Linked DNA regions of Homo sapiens. The protein of the gene in region 4 purifies or fractionates together with the protein of the main gene of each other region. This does not show direct contact. Each region holds a gene or a part of one and is shown on either strand. Other genes may lie near its edges.

What was found.
Region 1: the proteins of SLC15A4 (region 4) and TTYH3 purify together in Homo sapiens (affinity purification with mass spectrometry; one large-scale study listed by BioGRID and IntAct). This does not show direct contact.
Region 2: the proteins of SLC15A4 (region 4) and NUP155 purify together in Homo sapiens (affinity purification with mass spectrometry; one large-scale study listed by BioGRID and IntAct). This does not show direct contact.
Region 3: the proteins of SLC15A4 (region 4) and SMCHD1 fractionate together in Homo sapiens (co-fractionation; one large-scale study listed by BioGRID). This does not show direct contact.
Region 5: the proteins of SLC15A4 (region 4) and SLC38A1 fractionate together in Homo sapiens (co-fractionation; one large-scale study listed by BioGRID). This does not show direct contact.
Region 6: the proteins of SLC15A4 (region 4) and SLC39A14 purify together in Homo sapiens (affinity purification with mass spectrometry; one large-scale study listed by BioGRID and IntAct). This does not show direct contact.
Region 7: the proteins of SLC15A4 (region 4) and TOM1 purify together in Homo sapiens (affinity purification with mass spectrometry; one large-scale study listed by BioGRID and IntAct). This does not show direct contact.

The regions. Positions count from the first base shown.
Region 1 is NC_000007.14:2,652,486-2,655,985, reverse strand, and holds part of TTYH3 (protein tweety homolog 3), read right to left. Parts: intron 3,069-3,500; coding exon 2,976-3,068; intron 1-2,975. UniProt on the Homo sapiens protein: Calcium-independent, swelling-dependent volume-regulated anion channel (VRAC-swell) which plays a pivotal role in the process of regulatory volume decrease (RVD) in the brain through the efflux of anions like chloride and organic osmolytes like glutamate.
Region 2 is NC_000005.10:37,361,107-37,364,606, reverse strand, and holds part of NUP155 (nuclear pore complex protein Nup155), read left to right. Parts: intron 1-222; coding exon 223-360; intron 361-622; coding exon 623-719; intron 720-3,500.
Region 3 is NC_000018.10:2,798,726-2,802,121, forward strand, and holds part of SMCHD1 (structural maintenance of chromosomes flexible hinge domain-containing protein 1), read left to right. Parts: intron 1-555; coding exon of another isoform or gene 556-658; intron 659-1,797; exon of another isoform or gene 1,798-2,015; intron 2,016-3,396. UniProt on the Homo sapiens protein: Non-canonical member of the structural maintenance of chromosomes (SMC) protein family that plays a key role in epigenetic silencing by regulating chromatin architecture.
Region 4 is NC_000012.12:128,813,959-128,817,458, forward strand, and holds part of SLC15A4 (solute carrier family 15 member 4), read right to left. Parts: exon of another isoform or gene 1,420-3,500; intron 1,113-1,419; coding exon 817-1,112; intron 1-816. UniProt on the Homo sapiens protein: Proton-coupled amino-acid transporter that mediates the transmembrane transport of L-histidine and some di- and tripeptides from inside the lysosome to the cytosol, and plays a key role in innate immune response.
Region 5 is NC_000012.12:46,203,044-46,206,543, reverse strand, and holds part of SLC38A1 (sodium-coupled neutral amino acid symporter 1), read left to right. Parts: intron 1-381; coding exon 382-464; intron 465-1,953; coding exon 1,954-2,012; intron 2,013-2,126; coding exon 2,127-2,243; intron 2,244-3,454; coding exon 3,455-3,500. UniProt on the Homo sapiens protein: Symporter that cotransports short-chain neutral amino acids and sodium ions from the extraccellular to the intracellular side of the cell membrane. The transport is elctrogenic, pH dependent and driven by the Na(+) electrochemical gradient.
Region 6 is NC_000008.11:22,370,278-22,373,777, forward strand, and holds part of SLC39A14 (metal cation symporter ZIP14 isoform a precursor), read left to right. Parts: intron 1-3,500. UniProt on the Homo sapiens protein: Electroneutral transporter of the plasma membrane mediating the cellular uptake of the divalent metal cations zinc, manganese and iron that are important for tissue homeostasis, metabolism, development and immunity.
Region 7 is NC_000022.11:35,323,894-35,327,393, forward strand, and holds part of TOM1 (target of Myb1 membrane trafficking protein), read left to right. Parts: coding exon 1-21; intron 22-3,377; coding exon 3,378-3,494; intron 3,495-3,500.

The DNA.
Region 1 (3,500 bases), on a different chromosome or scaffold from region 4:
TTCGACTGAGATACCCCCCACCCTGGGGTCTCAGTGCAGGTCCTGAGGACAAGGACTCTGGGCCTTGAGAAATGGTGACCCCAGGCCCCTCCTCAGACCCGTGGGGTCTACCAAGGACATGAGGACCCAGAAGCGCCTGTCCAGTGTGGTCGCCACTACGTGAAGACAGACCTCCCTTTATTGTAATGGGAGAAACAGCGAACCCCCACGTGTCTACTGACACGGACCTGCTCTGCTTTTGAAAGTATTATTTCAAGGAACAGCTAAAGACAAGGGAAGAGTCTCATACTGACTGACAAAACTCTCCATGCAGAGTGAGCGCAGTCCTGTAATGTGTCCGTGTGCTCACCGGTGCTTACGTGTGTGCATGCGTGTGCACCTGTGCACGGACACCACCAGCTCTGTCTCATGCCTGGAGAAACGGCTGCACAGAAACACTGCCAGGCTGACAGCGACTCCACAGGAGCAGTGACTGGGCCCATTGCTGCCTTTTACGGCACGTTTTCTAAGGACCCACTACAATCCTGAAATGGATTTTGGGGCCGGGAGCGGTGGCTCACCCCTGTAATCCCAGCGCTTTGGGAGGCCAAGGTGGGTGGATCACTTGAGGCCAAGAGTTGGAGACCAGCCTGGGCAACATGGTGAAACCCTGTCTCTACTAAAAATACAAAAATTAGCCAGGCGTGGTGGCACGCGCCTGTAGTCCCAGCTACTCAGGAGGCTGAGGCAGAAGAATCGCTTCAGCCGGGAGGCGAAGTTTGCCGTGAGTTGAGATCACACCACTGCACTCCAGCCTCGGCAAGAGAGTAAGACCCTATCTCAAAAACAACACCAAAAAAAAAGAAATGGATTTCGGGATAACAGAGCCTACTGTTACGGGCTCAATGGTGCCTCCAGAATTCCTGTGTTGCGGTCTGAACCCCCAGGACCTCAGAAAGGGGCTGCACTTGGAGACACAGCCTTTAAAGAGGTGTTGAAGGTAAACCAAGGTCACATGGGTGGGTCCTAGCCCCATGGGACGGGTGTCCTTATAAGAAGAGGAAAATGAGCTGGGTGCGCTGCAGGCGCCTGTAATCCCAGCTACTCAGCAGGAGAATCGCTGGAACCCAGAAGGCAGAGGTTGCGGTGAGCCGAGATTGCGCCACTGCACTCCAGCCTGGGCAACAGAGAGAGACTCTGTCTCAAAAAAATAAATAAATAAAAATAAAAAAGAAGAGGAGATCAAGACACAGACACCCACAGAGGGATGGTCCTGTGAAGACAGTGGGAGAAGACAGCGTCTACAAGCAAAAGGGAGGCCTTGGAAGAAGCCGGCCCTGCCAAGAGCTGTGAGATGATAAACGTTTGCTGCGGAGGCTGCCCCATCTGGGCTGCTGTGCTATGGGGGTCCCAGGAAACGAATCCACTTCCCTACCCACTCGAGTGCAAAAACGCCAAGAGGGAGCTCTAGCTGTAACAGAAATTCTAAAAAGTAACTTTAAATCAAAGCAATTGTGTGTGTGTGTGTATAATTTTTATTTTTAATTTTTTTTTATGTGTGTGTATATATGTTATATATATATACACATACATACAGAGAGAAAGAGAGAGAGAGACAGGGTCTTGCTCTGTTGCCCAGGCTGGGGTGAACTGGTGCCATCACAGCTCACTGCAGCTTTGAACTCCCGGGCTCAAGCAATCCTCCTGCCTCAGCCTCCTGTGCAGCTGGGATTGCAGGCATGCTTTGCCACACCTAGCTAGTTTTTGTATTTTTTTGTAGAATGGGGTCTTGCTATGTTGCCCAGGATGGTCTTGAACTCGTGGGCTCAAGTGATCCCCTTGCCTCAGCCCCCCAGAGTGCTGAGATGACAGGCATGAGTGCCGTGCCCGGCCCCGTGTGTGTATACACATTTGTTTGCTTTTATCTTTGTGAAGAGCTCCTTGGAGAAGGGCCAGCTGCTCCCAAATGGAGTCTGAGACCCACACTTGTGCCCACAGACGCACTCCTCCCTCTTCATGTCCAGTCCTGGGGCGGTGTGTGTGGGGGCAGGGATCCCCACGGGTGGACCAAACACCTCCAAAGAGATTTGGGTTTTATCAAGAGTATAGCAACGTATTTATTTTTTATTTTTATTTTATTCTTTGAGATGGAGTCTCGCTCTGTTGCCCAGGCTGGAGTGCAGTGGCGTGATCTCCGCTCACCGCAATCTCTGCCTCCCAGGTTCAAGTGATTCTCCTGCCTCAGCCTCTGAAGTAGCTGGGATTACAGGCGTGTACCACCACGCCCAGCTAATTTATGTATTTTTAGTAGAAATGGTGTTTCACCATGTTGGCCAGGCTGGTATTGAATTCCTGGGCTCAAGTGATTCACCCACCTCGGCCTCCCAAAGTGCTGGGATTACAGGCGTGAGCCACCGCGCCAGGCCTTTATTTTATTTTTTTAACATATTGTAATGTAGAAATGCCCGGGCCCAGAACACTACAGGGAAAAACAAGAATCCTCTCAAATTTCCACAATGCCCCCAGGGCACTCACCCAGAGAATGGATCTGATTCTGTTACTCTCTTCCCTCATCTCTTTCCATTTTCTTCAATTTTTTTAAATATAAAGAGCTTGTATTATTTTTAAACAAAGAATAAAGTTATTTTTTAAACGTTGGGTGTGGTGGTTCACGTCTGTCATCCCAGCCCTGAGACCCACCTGGGCAACATAGCAAGAGCCCATCTCAAAAGAAATGATTTTTAAAACCTACCAAAAATTCCCAAGGGAAAGGAATGAAGGAGGGAGGAAGGGGAGGAAAAAATGAGGCCTAACGCGGAAAGGGCTGGGGGAGGGAAGAGGAACACCTCCCATGCCACCTCCAACACCAGGTCCCCACTCGGCCAGCCTGGTGCCTTCTCCAAATTTGCCCTGAGCTGTGTTTGCACCACAAATTCCTTTCATGCTGAGAAAAGAGGAGCCCTGCCTGCCCCAGTGCCTACCCCGCAGCCCCTCACCTTAGTGGCCGGCTGCTCCCAGGGGACGGTCCTCAGAAGCTCAGCCACGACATCCTGCATCTCCACCAGTGCCTTGTGGCTGCCCGACAGCTTCTGCTCCAGAGAGGAGACCAAGTCCATGGGCGCTGCTGGGTCCGCCCGCCTCTCCCTCCCCAGGACCCTCCAACGCGGGGACACCAGCAAGACGTCCAGCCTGGGAGACCATCAAGGCTCTGCTCTGCAGGCCAACAGGGCACTCCCTGCCCTTGCTTCCCCCGGGACACACCCAGAGACCACAGAGCCCTGAGGTGGTAACAGCCAACCACGCACCCACACCAGCAAGCAAAGCACAGTCACACGGCCCTCAGGATTCAAAGGGTCACATGCTACCGGTACAATGACAGGCAGTGTGTACAGGGCTTGACCAGCTGGTGCGGCCGACCTCTTCAAACTCCCCCACCAGGACGCCTGAACACGGTTACCCTACAGAGGCATCCCTGGGGCTCCTCCTTCCCCCACCAAGGCCAATCCAAGGAGCAAAAGCAG
Region 2 (3,500 bases), on a different chromosome or scaffold from region 4:
AAGTTTTTTGAGATATGACTTTCCCTTTAGGCCTGAAACCAGTAACTGTTCCTACCTTCACAAGGGAATATTTCAGGACTACTTTGTGTTGGGTCAAAACTAGAATATTCTCTCTGTACCTTTGGAACCAACACACAACAATTTTTTTGTGGCACTCAATCCTTTTGTTTGCCCGGTTGATGAGCAGTACATTATTATAAATACTTCATTTTCTTTTTGTAGATAATCCCACCGTTTCTGGCATGTCAGATATGGATTATCCTTTGCAAGGACCTGGTTTGCTGTCCGTACCCAACCTTCCAGAGATCAGTTCCATCCGAAGAGTTCCTCTCCCACCTGAACTTGTTGAGCAGTTTGGACGTATCCTATTACTTTGTATTTATTTTAAAAATGTTAAAATTGGTATTTTTCATTCTTATAATTCTTGTTCTATGTTTAATTAATGTGTTATATATTCATTTAAGGGTTTTATTTAAAATTCGTTTAAGTATATGGGTTCCATGTTGTATTAAAGAGTGGACACATTGTGATTTTTTACGTAAATATTAAGTCAAAAGCTATTGAAACAAGTTAAAGAAGAATAAGATTCACCTCTGTCTGCCTTACATCCACACTACCTCAGATATGCAGTGTAATTGCATGATGGGTGTGTTCCCTCCTATCAGCAGAGCTTGGCTCACAATTGACAGTGATATATTCATGTGGAACTATGAGGATGGGTATGTATTTAAGGCTGGTTTGCTTTAAGGGTGATTGGAATTTATATAAACTTTACTGTAGCTAGTGTTCTCATTAGAAGCTGCTTGGTTTATCTTTCATTCATCTAGCCTTTGGGTCAGTGCTTCTCAGTATCAGTCATCTGGAGATGTTCAAATGTGCATTCTGTCTTAGTAGTCCTGAGTGAGGCTCAAGAGTCTGCATTTCTAACAAGCTGCCAACTGCTGCTGCTGGTTTAGGTGCCATTCTTGAGTGGCAGGAGCCCGGGTCCCAAGCTGTTAGCCCGTAGTAAAAATAGATGTTGGCAATTCATTGAGAGATGATTGGACATTTTTAAAGACTTCTGTTTTCCTTGCATTTCTATGGAGTAGGCATGTGATATTTATTTATTTTGTTGTCATTTTGTGAATTTGACCCGTGTGTAAATTATATGTATAGAAATGATTCTGAGTGAAAGCCTAAGGTACTTTTGCTTAAATACAGCATGTTGGTCTGGTGATCTCCCTGTTGACTTTTTAGAGATAGATTTTGTTTTACTTCCAGTTGTCCATTACATTATCCTTAGATGAGGTGTGGGATAAACATAGGAAAGCCCATATAATTAAGATGTTACTCTTGTTCCTGAGTAATTAATGATCTTTTTAGGAACACACGTGCATTAAAAAGACACTGTATCGGCCGAGCACGCTGACTCAAACGCCTATAATCCCAGCACTTTGGGAGGCTGAGGTGGGTGGATCACCTGAGGTCAGGAGTCCGAGACCAGCCTGGCCAACATGGAGAAACCCTGTCTCTACTAAAAATACAAAAATTAGCCAAGTGTGGTGGCACATGCCTGTAGTCCCAGCCACTCGGGAGCTGAGGCAGGAGAATTGCTTGAACCTGGGAGATGGAGGTTGCAGTGAGCTGAGATAGTGCCACTGCACTCCAGCCTGAGTGACAGAGCGAGACTCCATCTCAGAAACAACAACAACAAAACACTGTATTATTGAAACAAAATTGAAACTAAATGACAGCTTAACACCTATAGCTTAAACGAAACCATTTTTTTCTACTAGAAGTTTCGTAGCAATTTTTCATGTTGAAATGTAATAGTTGTAATAGCAGTGATGTATGATTGTGATTATTTTTCATGTACCCTGAATGTTCCCCACTTTGTTATGTTACCATAACATATTCATTTTTATACTAAATAATGAAACCTTTTTTGTTTAGGTATGTATCTTTTCAAGAGAAGTCATTGCAAAAATATTACAGAACAGATAAATGTGAGAATAATTGTTTTCTTTAAAATATGTTTTCGGCTGGGCATGGTGGCTCATGCCTGTAATCCCAGCACTTTAGGAGGCCAAGGCAGGCAGATCACCTGCAGTCGGGAGTTCGAGACCAGCCTGACCAACATGGAGAAAGCCCATCTCTACTAAAAATACAAAATTAGCCTGGCATGGTGGCACATGCCTGTAATCGCAGCTACTCGGGAGGCTGAGGCAGGAGAATCACTTGAACCTGGGAGGCGGAGGTTGTGGTGAGCCGAGATCGCGCCATTGCACTCCAGCCTGGGCAACAAGAGGGAAAACTCCATCTCAAAAAAAAAAAAACACTAATGAAATTTTTTACATTTCCATTAACATCCAACATATTTATTTAACACATACATATTGATCTTATGTATCTGACACTGTTGTTGTGGTAGGAACAGTACTGAATGAGATGAATGTAGTTCTGCCCTCATGGAACAAACAGTCCTACCTTACTGTGTGTCTTAGTCCGAGCTGCTAAAACAGAATACCATAGCCTGTGATCAACATGAATTTCTTTCTCATGGTTCTGGAAGCTGGAAGTCCAAGATCAAGGTCTGGTGAAAGCCCACTTCAATGTTCATAGATGGCTATCTTTTCACTCTGTCCTCACATGGCAGAGGGGTAGGGGAGTTCTTTGGGTCCTCTTTTATAAGGGCACTAATCCCATTCATGAGATATACCCTCATGACCTAATAACCTTTCAAAGACCCCACCTACAAATACTATCACATTAAGAGTTAGGATTTAATATGAATTTTAGGAGGACACAGATATTTGATCCATAGCAGTGTGTGTTCATTTAAAGAAAAATTATTTGAAGAATGTACTTATTTTAAAAAATCAAGGCACAAGGTCCACAAATTCAATTTTGTAAAATTTATACTTAGTTTAAATATTCAATTGGCTTTCTATTATAAATCCTAATTCCACCTGGATGATAAAAATGTAATCTTGGTCATTTCATTGTTCTCTAACCCCCAAATATCTCAGCATTGGATCGTAGTTCCAAGAGGCTGTGCCAGTTATCAAAGGGCCCTGTGGAATGGCATGATGTAAGAGGATGGGGAATCCTAGTCCGCATAAGTTGCCATTTAGCTATTTTGTTCCTGTGTGGATGGCCTTTTCAGGATGACTGGAAGCTTTCTTGAAAGTCTAGATCATATTTTTTCGTGGTATTTTTTCTGCTTCTTGTTCTCTGAGCTTCTTAGATCTTTAGTTTGATGTCTTCTATTATTTTTAGAATTTTTTTCAGCTGTTATCTTTATTTCTCTCTCTCTCTCTCCTTTTCTGTTCAGCCATTGTCTTTTTTTTTTTTTTTTTTTTGAGACAGAGTCTCGCTCTGTCGCCCAGGCTGGAGTGCAGTGGACTATCTTGGTTCACTGCAACCTCCACCTCCTGGGTTCAAGCACTTCTTGCCTCAGCCTCTGGAGTAGCTGGGACTACAGGTATGGGCCACCACACCTGGCTAATTTTTGTATTGTT
Region 3 (3,396 bases), on a different chromosome or scaffold from region 4:
TAGGAAATTCACTGTATTATTCCCTCTGCTTTTATATAGGTTTGCCATAATTTTTTAAAGAAGTATTTTATGAACAGTGGGATTATTTTTTAGAGAGACCAGAACCCACTTCCCACTAAGGAAATTCCTCAAGGTGCAGTTCTAGGCTAAGATGTAAGGTACATGTTTTTGTGCCACAGTCTCAGCACTAAATTTGCCCTAGACCTTCCAGTTACTACAGCGCTACTGTGGACATTGATTTGGAACTTGTTAATTAAGATTTTGTAGCAATTCAGAGGGAGTTTATGTTTTAGTTTATAATATTGTTAGTAGTATAATGATCATCGGTCATATGTGTATATATCAAATGGTATAGATTTACAGTGTTGTACTATACGTGAGTCACATATATAATTTTAAATTCTCTAGAAGCCATATTAAAAAGGAAAAAAGGAACAGTGAGATTAATTTTAATAATAGATATTATTGAACCCAATATCCAAAATATTTCTACATGTAAACAACGTTAAAAATGATTAATGAGCTATTTTACATTCTTTTTTTTTAAATACAAAGTCTTCACAATTCAGAAGACAGCAAATCTCAATTAGGACTAGCTACGTTGCAAGTACTCTGGAGCCACACACATGGCTGGTGGCTACCGTTTTGGACTGCACAGGTATAGAAAGAGCTGATGATCGTAAAATCTTGTATCCTATGCATCCTTACCCCTATTCCATCCTTCAGAGGCAACCTTTGTTTTAACTGTTAATTTTTAGTTACTCTATTGTTGCCTCCACTTTTAAAAGTTACATTATTATGACTATGTAAATATTGTTCAGGCAAATATTGTACTAAGCAAACTTGTGTGCTAGAATTACACTTCCTTCTCTATATGGGTCTAATGTCATGACTCTTACTTAGGCCACCAGTTAGTGCTCCAAACATCAGGCTCAAATAAATCTTCCTTACTCTGTTATTCTTAAAATCACGTGAAGTGTTATTCCAATTGTTACTAAGACTCTTTCTTGTTAATTTTTCTGGAGTTTTTAATTGCCACCTTTTTTTTTCTTTCCCTATGTATCTTAATCACATCTTCTTCCTCCTGTACCAGTGACTAGTAACTGTGCAGGCCTCCTGTAAATCTGCCATCCTGGGTCTTCCTTAGTTACTCTCTTGGATTATATCCATTATTTATTGGATTCCATGTCTTTCTCTCTCTTATAAATTCCTTAGAAAAAATGTGTAGAAAGATAACTTGGAGCCCTTCTATGTCCGAAAAATGTCTTCATTTTGCGTTCACGTTTGATTGAGGTTTTCTGGAGATAACAGGATAGAAACAAGGCTAGAATATACTAGAGGTGAAGGGATTGGGAAATAGTCTAGAAATAATAGGAGACAGTCTGCCTGATTTAGCCCCAGAAACACTTTGGATTCAGAGTCAGTTAGAACAAAAGAGTGAGAAGTCCAGCAACTCTCCCTGTTTGGGAGTCCTGTCTCCCAAACAGGGAGAGTGGCAAATAAAAAGGACGGAACAGAATGGAAAAGGAAAGGAAGCCACAGCCTAGAATGTACCAGATTTTCAACCCAAACTTTGAAAGCTTTGTTTCCTTGTCAACAGGCATGAAAAGATGCCACTACAAAGTTAGATAACAATGGAAATGAATTAAATGTTGGTATATTGGCTTTTGGTAGTTGCTGGCACACTAGGACCTAATGCTGGCCTCTGGGAACTAAAAGGCTGATAACTGGCTCTGCACCTGCACATTTATCTATTTTGATTTTAATTCAACAATTTTTACTTTATTTATTTTGTAGAGATGGGGTCTTGCTGTGTTGACCAGGCTGGTCTCAAGCTCCTGGGCTTAAGCTACTCTCCTGCCGCGGCCTCCCAAAGTACTGAGATTACAGGCCTGAGTCACCATGCTCGGCCCAACATCCACATGTTTAAAGCAAAACCTGTGGACCCATGACGTTGATTTGCCCTATCCCAGTTATAGTTACCATCAAGTCCCACTCGGAGAAGAGACTTGTTGGTAAAACAGTTCTATTTTTATAATAGTAGAAGAAATTCCAGCTAGCAATGTAATCCTCTTTCTTAAATGTAATTGTACAACTAACAGTCATCACACATATGAGGGTAGCCAGCAACGTGAGAGACAAAATTCAAGATTAAGTTCCAAAATCAACATGGAGGACAATTTAGTAAAGAGACTAGACCTCTTTTATAAAATTATAATTACTATGTAGCAGAAAGGAGCCAGGACAAGAATGAATAAACAGATTACAAATATTGTTGCTGAAATAAAAATGTTCAATAGGAGGATTAAAGTCCAAAAAGAAAACTTCCCCAATACAAAAAGAGATAGAAGACATAGAGAACCAATTCAGACTATTAGGAATCTAGAAAGAAGAAAATGGAGAAGGAAATGCTATCATGTGGAAGAGGATTTCCTAGGGATGAATAAAATTCATTGAATGCCCAGCAACAGTGACTGACAAAATACTCACTAAGATACTTCATAGTAATACTGTATCATATCAAGGAGAGGGAGAAAGAGTGTCAGTGATTTTAGAGAAGCCAAAGAACCATATTTTCAGTGCAGCCTTTAGTACATGGGGAGACACACACACAAAGCTATCATTTGTTTAGCTTTGTGATGGCGGTATTAGAAGTTTAGGTGGAAAATTTGGTGTATTCTGGACTGCGACTTTCTCCTCTTTGCATCCTGATTATATTCATGAAATTTGTTAAAATCACTATGAGGGATTTTCTCATCCTCAGTCTTTTCCTATTCTCTATAAATCTTTAATAAATCTCACACTCTCAAGAGGTCAGAGCATTTGAAATAAAAATCTTAACAGTATTGAATATTGGTATATTTCATCCATACAATCAGGAACAAATTTAATAGTAGGAAAGGAAATAGGTACATTATATGTGTTTCTGTATATTTATGTTTATGTTTTTATTTACATATGTATACTGAATATATATTTGTTACTGCTTATAGATCACATACTATGTTTCATCAACTTTAAGATTTCATTAACTATAAAAATGTCATTTTATGAAACATTAAAGAAAAATATTGCAAATTAACTCATGACCTTATAAAGTACATCTGGATTTCAGAGATGTTAAGTGTGAAAAAATATCTTAGAATTCATTAGATATGCTTAGCAATATATGATACTATGCAGTAGATTCCATTGTTTTCTTGAATAGAGGCTTCAGTTTTCTAAATAATTTTCCACTTATAAAGATTAAAAATTAGTTCTGTTAAAAATATGTATCATCTTCTATTTGGAGATAGTTCAGGGAACTATTAGAAAATATTTACATATACCTGAATTTTTAAAATCTGTAGCTATATATGTCAAGGTGCTCACTGTGTTCATCTCTACATGAATGAG
Region 4 (3,500 bases):
CTTGGGCTTAAGTTCTGGACTTTATTAACTGGCATCCAACATCACCAAACATGAGTCATAGTTGGCCAGTGACTTGGAGGGGTTCTGAGGACACAGGCCTTTCTGTTTTAACACCTCAGTTCATGGGACTTTGGTGCTAACACTGGGTAAGTCCCATGAGATCATCTGGTTACCCTCAGTGCATCTCGCCATTCTGCTACTGCACCTTCCTGTCAAGAGTTACAGACCTGACCGCCGTATGATGGACCTGACCGCCGTATGATGGACCTGACCGCCGTATGATGGACCTGACCGCTGTATGATGGACCTGACCGCCGTATGATGGACCTGACCGCTGTATGATGGAGCCCATGCTGACCTTTAGGTAAGAGGCAGTGGCTTACTTTTTAAAGAGCAGAGACAGGTACTGACAGCATAAGCAACTGCTTAGTTTTTCATTCAAATGTATTTCAAAGCTTTTTAAAATAAAAAGAAACATGTATAAAGCATGTCTTCTGTCTCCTCGATGTCCTCCACAAATTTCTACCTTTATAATCTGGCACCAAAGGAGCTTCCGTCTACACTAGCAGTGAGAGAAAGTGCAACGTGGGGTTAAAGCATGAGCTCTGGAATCAGGCCACTGGCCTGTCTTTAAGATGGGATAATAAGACCGCACCCGCCTCCTTGGGGAAATGCAGTGTTAAAGGAGAGAAGACATGTAAACCACTCAGCCCAGGCCCAGCACACAATAAGCACACAACAAACCGAAGCTAGGATGTTAATAAAGAGATCGATAAAGTCCTTTCAAACAGCCCAAGATGAGAACTAAGTGCTTACCCATTACTCTGGCGCTCTCCACTTCGCTTCTGGGAACAGCAGGAATACGTCAGTATCTTGAACATGTCGGTGAAGGCACTGCCATCAGGAGGCTTGGTGATGAAAACGCTCTGGCCACAGAGGAAGACCACAAAAGCAAGGCCGACGCAGACAGTGGGGATCGCATAACCAGTGACAAAGCTGACGTTCTGCTGAATATAGGCAATGCCACCTAACGACAGGATCGCTCCCAGGTTAATGCTCCAATAAAACCAATTAAAAAATCTCCTAGTGGCTTCCGGACCTCGATCTTTAACCTAAAATAACAGGGAGGAAAGACACTTGAAAATATATGACAGTCTTCAAGGATGAAAACCATATACGGTCAAGTGGTTAAAATTACCGTTGTCATCACAACCTTTAAGAAGCGCAACACAATCAAAATTGTGTTTACAGAAACATTCACGGATCTCAACAAAAAGCACACCCCACGCTTTTAATTACTACAGTTGCTAGGTAGGTTTCACTTAATTACACTAAATTCCAACAAATGCTAGAGAGTTTTTCCAAGTATATTCTGCTGTAGAATTTTCTAAGTACCTGAACCACTTGCCTTGGAATTACCTGGAATGCTCTTTAAAAACAGAGTCCGCTGGGCATGGTGGCTCACGCCTATAATCCTAGCACTTTGGGAGGCTGAGGCGTGTGGATCACTTGAGGTATGGAGTTCGAGACCAGCCTGGCCAACATGGTGAAACACCGTCTCTACTAAAAATACAAAAATTAGCCAGGCATGGTGGTGGGCACCTGTAATCCCAGCTACTTGGGAGGCTGAGGCAGGAGAATCGCTTGAATCCAGGACATGGAGGTTGCAGTGAACCGAGACTGTGCCACTGTACCTGGTTGACAAGAGTGAAACTCCATCTCAAACAAACAAACAAACAAAAAACAAACACAGTCACAGGACCCACGCTCCAGACCTACTGAATCACGGTCTCTGGGGCCCAGGCCCAGGAATCTGCATTTCAAGCAACTTCCCAGGTGACTTCTACTCACAGGTAAGTTTTAGAACCAATGTTATAAAGCTCCATGCCTTACTGAGCTACATGCAAGTACCATGAGGCACCCCACAAATATGCTTAGGCCCCAAAGAGAGACATTTGTTCAGTGAGGCCAAGTCACCACCCACACCAATTGTATCTGGTCTCCTGAGAATCAGAGATCTCAGTAAACTTGAAGCAAAGAGGAAATTATAGACTAAAGATAAAACCACATGCTATTTTTAGATTAGACAGGCTATCAATGGAATCGGAGAAATTCTGATAAGGGTGGGATTTCCAAAAGGCTCAAAAATCACTGACTTCCTGGACTCAAACAAAAGCACTGAGGTAATAACGCAACATCTAGGCTTATGGAGTTCACGAGGCTACTTCAATGGAGCCCAAGCGGTGGGAACAGGTCATTTGGGGGCAGACACACCAGAAGCCTTCTCTGCCCACCTGGATTTTTACGTCTAAATAAGATACTGTGCAAATGAACCCTGTACTAGACAGAGACATTTCTAGTGAGTTTCATTTCATAAATTTATTTTTAACAAACTTATGAGAGGCTGATACTGGATCTCATAAAAAGACTCTCTTGCTGTCTTAAAAACTTCTACTGTCTCATTCTTAAGTCACAGGTTATGAAAGAGTTAGAAAATTCTTATTCTAATAATAGATCTAGTTTCTGGATCCATAGAACAATCTGCTCTACTGAATAACACATTCTCAATGGGGCCAAAACAACCAATTACGGTTGGGCATGGTGGCTCAGGTCTGGAATCCCAGCACTTTGGGAAGCCAGGGCAGGCAGACCGCTTGGGTCTAGGAGTTTGAGAGCAGCCTGGGAACACAGACAGACCCCCATCTCTACAAAAAATTACAAACATCAGCCAGGTGCGGTGGTGTGCGCCTACAGTCCCAGCTACCTGCGAGACTGAGGTGGGAGGATCCCTTGAACTGGGGAGGAGGTGGCAGTGAGCTGTGATGGCACCACTGCACTCCTGCCTAAGCGACAGAGGCCCTGTCTCAAAAGAAAAAAAAAGATATGGTATGTAATAAGCACATGCATCTTTTTAGCAGTCATATATTTGATATGGTATTTTAAACTCTATTTTTTAAAGATTAAATCAGAGGAGTAAAATTTATAGTTAAAATTGTGTGTTCCTCTCTAAAGGAAATAGAGCAAAAGAAAAAAAATTGTGTGCTCCTCAAAAAGAGATTTGTTTGAAGTCCAAATGATTAAGCATGGCCACTATGGTGGCAGGTAATTAATTATATATAGTAACACCACTTCAAACGAAAAATCTAAATTTAAAAGAAAATCACTTATTCTCAAGAGTTTAAACTTTTCTCTTATCTATTACAATACTGAACAGAGGTCCTAGACCAAATGCAGACATCTCTACTGAATAAAGAGTTTGAGGTGAGAACTTCACAGACATCTAAGACACTTCTTCACTAGGACACAATGCATTTAAATATTGCTCAACAGTGGACACCAATTCTCATGCTATACTAGACATGGACCAGGAAGAAAAATGAAAAATGTGAGCAGAGAAATGGTTACTGAGAAAACAAAACTAGAAGTGCGAAAAAATAACAAACAAAAAGTAATTTTTTGACAAGCATAAAAGAGGCCAGTAAACATAGTATATAAACTTA
Region 5 (3,500 bases), about 83 Mb from region 4:
TGTTTCTCACTGATACTAGCCCAGCAAAACAAAAAGGAGCTTTCTCTTTAAATAATTGATAGGACAAGTTGTAATCTGACAGAATGAAATGTGTGCATTCAGCTTTGAAACCATGTAAATAATTCAAAAGAATGCCACATTTAGCCAATGGGAAAAAAAAAAACCAATATTCCCTCTTCCATTACAGGGGAGTGAAGCTGTAGTATATAAGTAGGGGCTGGGTTAAAGTGTTTGGATAAGACCTGAATAATGATTTTAAAAATTAATGCATATAGTAAAAATTAATAAAAATATATATCATGATATCATGAAATTTTACATTGGAGGGGAAAAAAGTCACTTTCTAAAAAAATATAACCTAATCACTTAAATGCCTTTCAGAGCCTGGTACGTGGATGGCCGCGTTCTGGTGGTGATAGTTACCTTTGGCATAATTCTCCCTCTGTGTCTCTTGAAGAACTTAGGTAAGGACAGATTTTGCTTTTATCATATTCTGCAGTGCCCAAGTGAATCAGAAACTGAATAAAAATGGACAGTGTTGCCCTCTGCTTCCCCTCTGCATGCACTCAAAGATTAAGTACATGATAAATTGCAAGTATTAATCGGTCCCAACTTTAATATGGGATAAAAATAACAGTCAGTATGTGACCTCCTAAACAATCCCTCTACTGAGCTGTGGAGGGGAGAAGGGAGGTCCTGGGGCCAGGACAGACAGGGCTATTTTCAGTAGTACAACTTATATGCTACTCTAAGAAAAGTCCAGAAAATGCAATTCTCTTCATACGAAGTCTTAAATACCCTCATTATTTAGATAAATACATTTTCAAATCTAATATGGAGACAGAAAGCTGCCTAGATTTATACCCACAAGTATTATAAATTTAGAGAGTCTGACCAGCCTCAATTATTTCTCTTCGAAGTGGGAGAGAGAAATCAAAAGTCAGAAATGGCGGATAATCTCCAAGTCATATCCATTTGGCTTTGATCTACTACTTGTTTTTATGCTTGTATTTGGAGACAAGGATGCCTGATGTTAAGGGAATTTCATACATTGAATAATGTGACCAGACTGCCATCTAGTCAAAAACCTATAAAATGTATTTACTTTAATTCTGGGCTAATTCAAACAGAAGTTTGGATAAAAGCTCTCCAAACAATAATTATGAGCCTTAGTTTTTTGTTTTGTTTTGGATACAAAACAAAACAGCTCTGTAGTTGTTCTGTGAGGTTTATAAATAGATTTTTTTAACTACTTAATTTTCTGGTTTCTGCCTCTGTGTTTTCTGTACCTATAGAGGTAGCTCTTTTCAGTTAAGTAGAGAAAAGCTCTTCCCCTGGGTTGAAAATAATGCAGTCCCGAGAGGCTACTTAACTCTACCTTTCTGGAGGTCATGGTAGCAATTGGAGATCTCCCAGGCATTCTAAGGGGAGCTACTAAAGAGCCCCAGATACTCAATTTACCACTAGAAATTCGCTTCATCTACTCTCTGTCATCTGGGGAGAAAAGTATTATAACTGACATTCAGTATGCACACAATAAGTGCATAATAAAGAGCTATTGAGGGGATCAAGGAGTAAATGGGTTTGCCCATAGGACTCCATCAGGGTCCACCAACACAGACTTACAGCAAAAATTGGAAGGCTCTTTTCTGCTGGATTCTGGGAATCTGTGTTCTCTAGTGTGCCAGGGAGAGTTGGAATCAAAACACGTAATATAATGTTTCTATTCAGAGCCCCATTTTTTTGCCAAATAAAGTAGCACTGTCAAATAATAAATCTTGTATTCACTTGGGCATGTATGTTTATTATTGGATCTCTAAAATATGCTTCAAATAATGCACTGAAATAAGTGAGGTGATGAATTTTGAAATAATAACAGTTTATGATGGGTAGCTCCAAAATTTTTAAAAATGGAAAAAAATGAAATAATTTATTTTTTACTTTTTTTTAAAGGGTATCTTGGCTATACTAGTGGATTTTCCTTGAGCTGTATGGTTTTTTTCCTAATTGTGGTAAGTGCTGATTGCAATGGTTGGTTTGGTTTTGTGATAGTACAATGGCATGTAATAATTATTCATTGGCTTTACTAAAGTCCATATTGCTTCTACTATACTTCTTAATACCAGGTTATTTACAAGAAATTTCAAATTCCCTGCATTGTTCCAGAGCTAAATTCAACAATAAGTGCTAATTCAACAAATGCTGACACGTGTACGCCAAAATATGTTACCTTCAATTCAAAGGTAAGTTTCCTGATCCTTTGCAGATGAAACAAGCATTTTTATTAAGGACATTCTATTTCTCATGCTTGTAATTGCACTGGTTTGAATGTATTAGTTCTCAAAAGAACACATGATACCATTGCTTCCAGATTACACATCTATGTAGAGATCCTTGAGAAATATACAAATATTATATTTTACACTCTCTCTTACCATTAAGCATTCTCTGTGAAAATCCCATTCTGGATAATTGTCTCAGCTTTTTCTGTGTAGAGTGCTAGGTGATACTTCAAAAACAGACTAACAACATCCTTAGCTCCCTTCTTCTGGCGATGACAGAAAGGAATACTGCAGACTTCCTCAGGTTGCACAGTTGAAATATAGATGCCACCACAAACTGGCACTTAAAAAACTCTCATACTATTAAAATATTGTTGATACAATGGGAAACAGAGGATTATGGAGTCAGTCAGGCTTGGATTTGAATCCTCAGGCAAGTCACCCAACCCCTTGAGTAAAAATAAGTATTCTATTCTGTATCTTACAAGGTTTTGTTAGAATGTGCCTGGCATAGTGCATCAGCAGAGTTAGGGCATAAGATAGGTTAGTTTTCACTTCTTTTTGCATAGGAAGTTAGATTGAGTGTGAGAGTTTCAAAGAGCCTTATCTAAGAAAACTAAATAGATCGCGATCTTTCTCCTTCTCTCTGATTGTAAGGATATAGCCAAAGTAGTGCAATATGGAACAGATTTTCTTTTCAGAGGGTATCTTTTAAGTCCGATTCCATGCACCTGATGTAGAGCGAAGAGCAGTAAACTAGAGGTGGGAGTGCTGGGCCAGTCGCCTGACCTGTTGGAGGGAGCCAGGAGAACAGCCACAGTCTGCCTACTGCTTGGGATTGCTGTGGGGACCCAGCGAGCTATCCTAGGAAGAGTGCCATGTAACTGGCTCATGCTGTATAAACAGGGGGTGTTGTATACCTGGAGTATATAAAATACACCATAGGTGAGCCAAATCCGAAGTCCCTCTGTGACAAGTGGCTAATGGCTCGAGCTAGACAAGCTGTCTTAGAAAAGCTGCTTCTACTTTAGAGATCAAAACCTCCCTAATAACCGAATAATCCAGGGATTCTGAAGAGCTGTCAGATAAAAAGACAGCTCAGAAATACTGGAGCTATGTCCTTTTTATGGTAAAAGTGTTTTTCCTAATGTCTATTCTTTTCTCTCAAATAGACCGTGTATGCTTTACCCACCATTGCATTTGCATTTGTTTGCCACC
Region 6 (3,500 bases), on a different chromosome or scaffold from region 4:
TGCACTATTCCAAGAGGAAACTCAATCCCTGTCCAACATTTGCAGAATCATGGGGTTTACACAGTAGTGTTGTGAATAGATTGTGCGTGCCTGGGAACCAGGACCTCCCTCTCCCCACTATGTCAGGATAATAGCCTGCCTGCACCTGACCTGGCCAAGGTAATGCTGCACCATGTTGCTGAGCCCCACAACCATGGAATGTTGAGCAGGGGACTTTGGTGATCTTGGAGTCCAGCACCTTTATTTTACAGTGAAAGAAACTGGATCCAGGGAGGTGAATTGGTATTCCCGAGTCACATGGTTGCCAGTGGCCAAGAGACTTGATGGAGAAGACCAAAGAAGGGTTCTATTTTTGATCCTAAATGTGATTATGAAATTGCTGACACCTCCAGTCTTTGCTTGGAAACTAGAAGAGGAAGGGGCCATTTGTCCCTGTGCTTATTGAGGGAGGGGGTGTTAGTTTCTTCTGGAGGAGTCTCTTACTCTTTCCAGACTCCCTGGAGACATGGGAGGCTGGGGAGTGAGCAGGGAAGGGACCTGCTGCTCAGCCCAGCCGGGACTCACCGGGTGTCTGCAGTGGGGCTTCTCTGACCTCCAGGCTGGTGGGCTGGTGGAATGCCAGGAGATAAGGAGTCCAGAGTCCGCCCCATCGACTGTCGCCAGCCAGGGCTTCATGCCCACCTAGGGGACAGGAGGGCAGGCCCTAGAACACAGGGTCACGAAGCCCCACTATCTTGTTCCCCCCTCCCCCCACTACCGTGGGCATTAAACCTCTCAGGGGGCCCCTGGTTGGGCCTGGCAGAGGCAGAGACGCAGAGGCTGGGCCCTCTGACCTGCACAAGGAAAAGAGGCCGGGAAAGCCACAGAATTGGCCTGCCCAAGGGAGCCCAGAGTGCCCAGCCATGGGAAACCGAATTCTCCGCCTTGGCAACTGGAGATCGGACTGTTGTTAGAACTCCTAACCTCCCTCCAAGGGCAGGCCCCAGAGAATCTTGGGGCTTGGTGGAATGAGAAGGTGAATGCCCTACATTTATTACCGCCGAGTTCCTAATGGCCCTCGTAGGCAGTGCATTCAGTATTAGTAGTTAATAAAAAAAATCAGATAAAAGTTGGATATCTAAAAAAAAAATACATGTCTTTTTTTTTTTTTTTTTTTTTTTTTTTTTTTTTTTTTGAGACGGAGTCTCGCTCTGTCGCCCAGGCTGGAGTGCAGTGGTGCGATCTCGGCTCACTGCAACCTCTGCCTCCTGGGTTCAAGCAATTCTCTGCCCCAGCCTCCCAAGTAGCTGTGATCACAGGTGCCTGCCATCACACTTGGCTAATTTTTGTATTTTTAGTAGAGACGGGGTTTCACCATGTTGGCCAGGCTGGTTTTGAACTCCTGACCTCGTGATCTACCCACCTCGGCCTCCCAAAGTGCTGGGATTACAGGCATGAGCCACTGTGCCCAGCCAAATCATATCTTTTATCTTTTTTTTTTTTTTTGAGACGGAGCCTTGCTCTGTGGCCCAGGCTGGAGTGCAGTGGCACGATCTCGGCTCACTGCAAACTCTGCCTCCCGGGTTCAAGCCATTCTCCTGCCTCAGCTTCCCGAGTAGCTAGGATTATAGGCGCCCGCCACCACGCCTGGCTAATTTTTGTATTTTTAGTAGAGACGAGGTTTCACCATGTTGGCCAGGCTGGTCTCCAACTCCTGACTTTGTGATCCGCCCGCCTCAGCCTCCCAAAGTGCTGGGATTACAGGTGTGAGCCACTTGCACCCGGCCCCTTTATTTTATCTTTAAAACATGTATGTATTTTTATTCACCAAAACTTTGATTTAGGGCCAAGCCCTTTCCTTTGAGTCTTTAGATCCCTTATTTAGACTACTTAGAAATTGTTTGTATATAAAAATCATACTTAAATGTATTACCTGTAATTTCTCATTTCTTTCATTTTATTAAATTTTTTTTTCCTACTAGGCTCCGTATTCACATAGTTGAAAAATCAAGACGGTAAAAAACAGCAAAACCTTGTCTTCCCCCAGCTTTTCAATAAATGCTCCAAGGTAGCATTTTAAACATCATTCAGCACCTTGCTTTTTTCACCTAGCAACTATATTAAGATCTTTTCCATATCAGCACATAGAATGCTTTTAGCATTCTCTGTCATAGCTGTGTAGTATTGCATAGTATGGAAGTATCATCTTTTTTAACCAACACACATATCACCCTGTCTGCGCTTATGTTTGCAGAATATATCTGTGAAGTGGAATCGCTGGGTAAAAGGTTAAATCTGTTAATTAGCTTTCACTAAATAAAAAAATGAAGCGAAGACAAGAGATATTTGCAAAACAGCCATGTTCGGAATCCAGTTACTGCTTTTATGTACATACCTAGTTTAATTTCAGCTTTTTATTATTTTTCCATTTGCAACAAATCTTTCTAGATGAGTAATTCTCAAACTTTTTGATGCTAGGACCCCTTACATTGTCTTTTGTATATGTGGCTATCTGTATTGATAGTATATTAAAAATTAAAACTAAGTAAAGAAAAATTTTTTTGAGACATGGTCTCACTACGTTACCCAAGCTAGTCTTAAACTCTGGCTTCAAGCGATCCTTCTGCCTCAGCCTCAAGACTGAGAAATTTTAAAATAGTTATTTATTCATTTAAAAAGCAAAAATAAGGCGATTACACGTTAACATTAAAAAAAAAAATGTTTTGAACGGGCGCAGTGACTCACACCTATAATCCCAGCATGTTGGGAGGCCGAGCTGGGCAGATCACAAGGTCAAGAGATCCCGACCATCCTGGCCAACATGGTGAAACCTCGTCTCTACTAAAAATACAAAAAATTAGCTGGGTGTGGTGGTGCACGCCTGTAGTCCCAGCTACTCTGGAGGCTGAGGCAGGAGAATCGCTTGAACCTGGGAAGCAGAGGTTGCAGTGAGCCAAGATTACGCCACTGCACTCCAGCCTGGTGACAGAGCGAGACTCCATCTCAAAAAAAAAAAAAAAGTTTCATGAAAAATAACTATATTTTCCAAAATAAAGTAGTCAAAAGAATGGCCTTGTTAGCATATTTTTAGAAATTTCAGGATTTTAAAATAATTATTTATTGGATGATAATGAGATAACAGGTTATAATAGGTGTAACTTAAATTTGCTGTTAAGAAGTCAGTTAAAAGTTCTGAGAACAAATTGAGCTAATCTCTGAGACCACCTATATATTATATTATACCCTAAACTTCTACCTTAGAAATTTCTCAAAGACTCAAGATGACACAGGTACGTGTCACATTTCATGTAGCTTCTGAAAAGTGAGAGTGAAAAGCTTTTAATTTTTGTATATTAGAATAAAAATAGTCTTTTACTTCAGGGACCCCAGGTGTCATATAAGACAGTAATTTCAGAATTACTGTTCGAGATCACTTAGCTTAAATTTCTCAGAAGTCAGACATTTTTCTTTGCATTTATTCTTCAGGGTTTTTTGTTTTTGTTTTCTCGTTTTTTTTTTTT
Region 7 (3,500 bases), on a different chromosome or scaffold from region 4:
ATAGCACCAACCCCGGAACAGGTAAACGAGCCTGGGGTCAGAACCGTCAGGTCCAGGCAGGTGGGCCACACACGTCAGGGAGGGCCCCCTGTCAGAATTTACCATCCACGGAGCCTCCACTTCTTCCTCACAGCAGCCCACAGGGTATGTGTGGTTCTTCCTGTTTGAGCGATGAGACTCAGAGAGGTCCATTCACTTGCCCAGAGCACACAGTCATCAGAGACAGTTGGGATCCAAGCTCACGTCTGTCTGACTCCTGGCAGGCACTGCCCTGTACCTTGGCCATTTTCCAACCTGTGTTTTCTGCGGGGCCCTCCAACAGCACCATGGAGAGGTGTCCTGTACGCAGCCCCTTCAGGCCAGCTCCACCTGTGTGGTTTCTTACACACTCACAGCTTTCATTTGAGCTGGGCATGGTCACGTGCGTCTGTGATCTTAGCTTCTCAAAGGTTCAGGCAGGAGGATGGCTTGAGCCCAGGAGTTTGAGACCAGGCTGGGCAACATAGAGAGACCTGTTTCAAAAAAAAAAAAAAAAAAAAAAAAGGCTTCATTTGAAGAGAGGTTCTGCCTGAAAAGTTTTCAAACATCTGTGCAAAAAATAAAAAACATATGTACATTGTACCATGCTGCTTCCCATGAAGTCTCAAGAAGGTCTGAAGCTTTTTTGTTTGTTCTGAAACAGTCTTGCTCTGTCACCCAGGCTGGAGTGCAGTGGCACCATCTAGGCTCACTGCAACCTCTCTCTCCCAGGTTCAAGCAATTCTCCTGCCTCAGCCTCCTGAGTAGCTGGGACTACAGGCATGAGCCACCATGCCCAGCTAATTTTTTGTATTTTTAGTAGAGATGGAGTTTCATCATGTTGGCCAGGCTAGTCTCGAACTCCTGAGCTCAAGTGATCTACTCGTCTTGGCCTCCTAAAGTGCTGGGATTACAGGCATGAGCCACCACACCCAGCCAAGAAGGTTTGAGGCTTAGTATGAGATTCTAGGGGACAGGTTTTCCCAGCCCTCTGACTAGCTTTGAAGGATTACCCACCTCAGAGCAGGTGGCACCCTGGGCATGTCACTTCCTTCCTCCTCATGGCCCACTGGGCCATGAGCTGCTTGTGGAGTGCCATGGCTGCTGTATCTGCTGAGTGACTTCTACAGCCATGACCAGCTCGTAGAGCTGGGGGCTTGTCATTCTAGACTTTTGGCTGCTGGGGTGGGGGCAGAGGCCTGCACACTGTGGAGACACCCACGTTAAAGGTGTTGTACACACATCAGGCCCATCACATCCGCGGAGCGTAAAGGTGGAGCTGCTGAGTGTGCTGGTGAGTTAGACACGGATGTGTGATGGAAAGAAAAGTGAAGCTTAACTTTCCCAATAAGCGTCCCCACTGCCCACTTTTTGTATCATTTGAACTCATTCTCACCCTAACCTATTTGAAGAGAAACTTCCATGATTTGTTTTCTCATAGCAAGTTATGAAATCACCCCTCAGAGTTACAGATATTACTAGAAAATTTTGCTAACTGGACAAAATTATTAACGCACTGCCCGTTTGCCCCAAGAATACTCTTGTCTCTAATCCTAATGTAACCTCATATACATTTCTGTTACGTTAGGATTGGAGACAAGTTCTGTTTAGAAATAACTCCAAGAACAGTTTTTATGTTTTATTTTCATGTTGAAAATCAGTCAGGTTTACTTCAGCCTCAAAGAGCATGTTTATGTAAAATTAAATGAGTGCTGACAGCGAGCTGCACTTTTTTTTTCTGAGTGGGTTAAAGGTGTGTAAAAAATTGTAAAACCACCTTGTGATTGTCTAACTCAGTTATGATTTTAACCAATTTTCTGAAGTCTAGCATCTGTGTGGATTAAGACGCTAATTACTTCCAATGCAAGAAGGTGCTTGCTAAACAAAACTAATCTTTGTTTAATTCGAGAGTCCCCTTTTGTCTCTTGGGACATGTTAAGACATCAGGTGTGCAGTGATGTTACTCCCAGACTCCTCTGTAATTAAGTCCCATCTGATTTGGATACATGGGGTTTGTGATCAGTAGTTTTTCCACTCACTCATACCAAGAGTGTTCATTAAGTAAGCCAAATAGATCAAACATTTTGCAGGTTTTGGAAGGTGTCAGTGAACCATAGTGGATATACTACTAGTCTCTACACTCCATTTCTTCATCTATAAAAGCAGGGATATTGATGTCTACCATGGTAAAAAATTAAGTTAGCAATATATGTTCAATGCTTGGCACTTATTAGGTAGTCTATAAATGGTAGCTGCTGTCACAATCATGAATGTATATAGTGACACTCTGAAATCAACTATAACTCAGCCACATGATTTAGAATGTACCAGCATTTCTCAAAACATAAAAAGGTTCTTCAGTCAAATAAATCTTAGAAGCTTTCAGACTGATCTTTTCCCAGGCATTCCCAGTGTGCATGAGGGCATTAAACACCCTACAAGGTCCCACAGCATAAGATCCTTATACCAATGGCCTTTCACAAGCTAACCTCTTTGAGGAGACTGCAGCTTTATTGAAAATGTTTCCCCAAGCCCAACTCCTTGGAACCCTTTGACCATTGAAAACCTGCCCACATCCCTTGGAACAAGTGCTAAATCTGAGTTTCATATTCAAGGTGGGGTACAGGGCAAGGACTATCCTTAGATGAGCCTGGGACACCAAAATAGACCAGAAACAGGACAAAATCCCAGTCCACTAGGAGGAGAAAGAGGGCAGAAGCCCAGTCCACTAGGAGGAGAGAGAGGGTGGAATCCCAGTCCTCTAGGAGGAGAGAGAGAGGACGGAATCCCAGTCCTCTAGGAGGAGAGAGGGCGGGATCCCAGTCCTCTAGGAGGAGAGAGACGGCGGGATCCCAGTCCTCTAGGAGGAGAGAGGGTGGGATCCCAGTCCTCTAGGAGGAGAGAGAGGGGGGGATCCCAGTCTTCTAGGAGAGAGGGCGGAATCCCAGTCCTCTAGGAGGAGAGAGAGAGGGCAGAATCCCAGTCCTCTAGTGGGAGAGAGAGAGAGGGCCTGCAGCGTCCCTCCCCGCCTTGTGGGGAGCCACCCTCCAGGGCCTTGTTAGCTGCTGTGTTAGACCCAGGAGATGCTGGAGTCTTCCAGCCACACGTGGTGGCTCATTCCGGTGTGGAGATGGTAACGGTTGGTAGCGCCTCTGTGAGGGGTCTGTAGAAGGGGTGGGGCAGGCCTCTAGTGCAGAGCTGTCACTTTGGGAGCCAGGAGGGAGGCTGCCTAGAGAGGCTGCTGGGAGGTCGGCTCCCTGGTGCTGCACCCAGGGTTGGTGGTACTGGGTTCTGTCGCTGTGAGTAACATGGGCCCCAGAACCCTGGCTTCTCTCACCACGATCAACTGTGTGTTTCAGATTGGGAAGCTGCGCAGTGAGCTGGAGATGGTGAGTGGGAACGTGAGGGTGATGTCGGAGATGCTGACGGAGCTGGTGCCCACCCAGGCCGAGCCCGCAGACCTGGAGCTGCTGCAGGTGAGC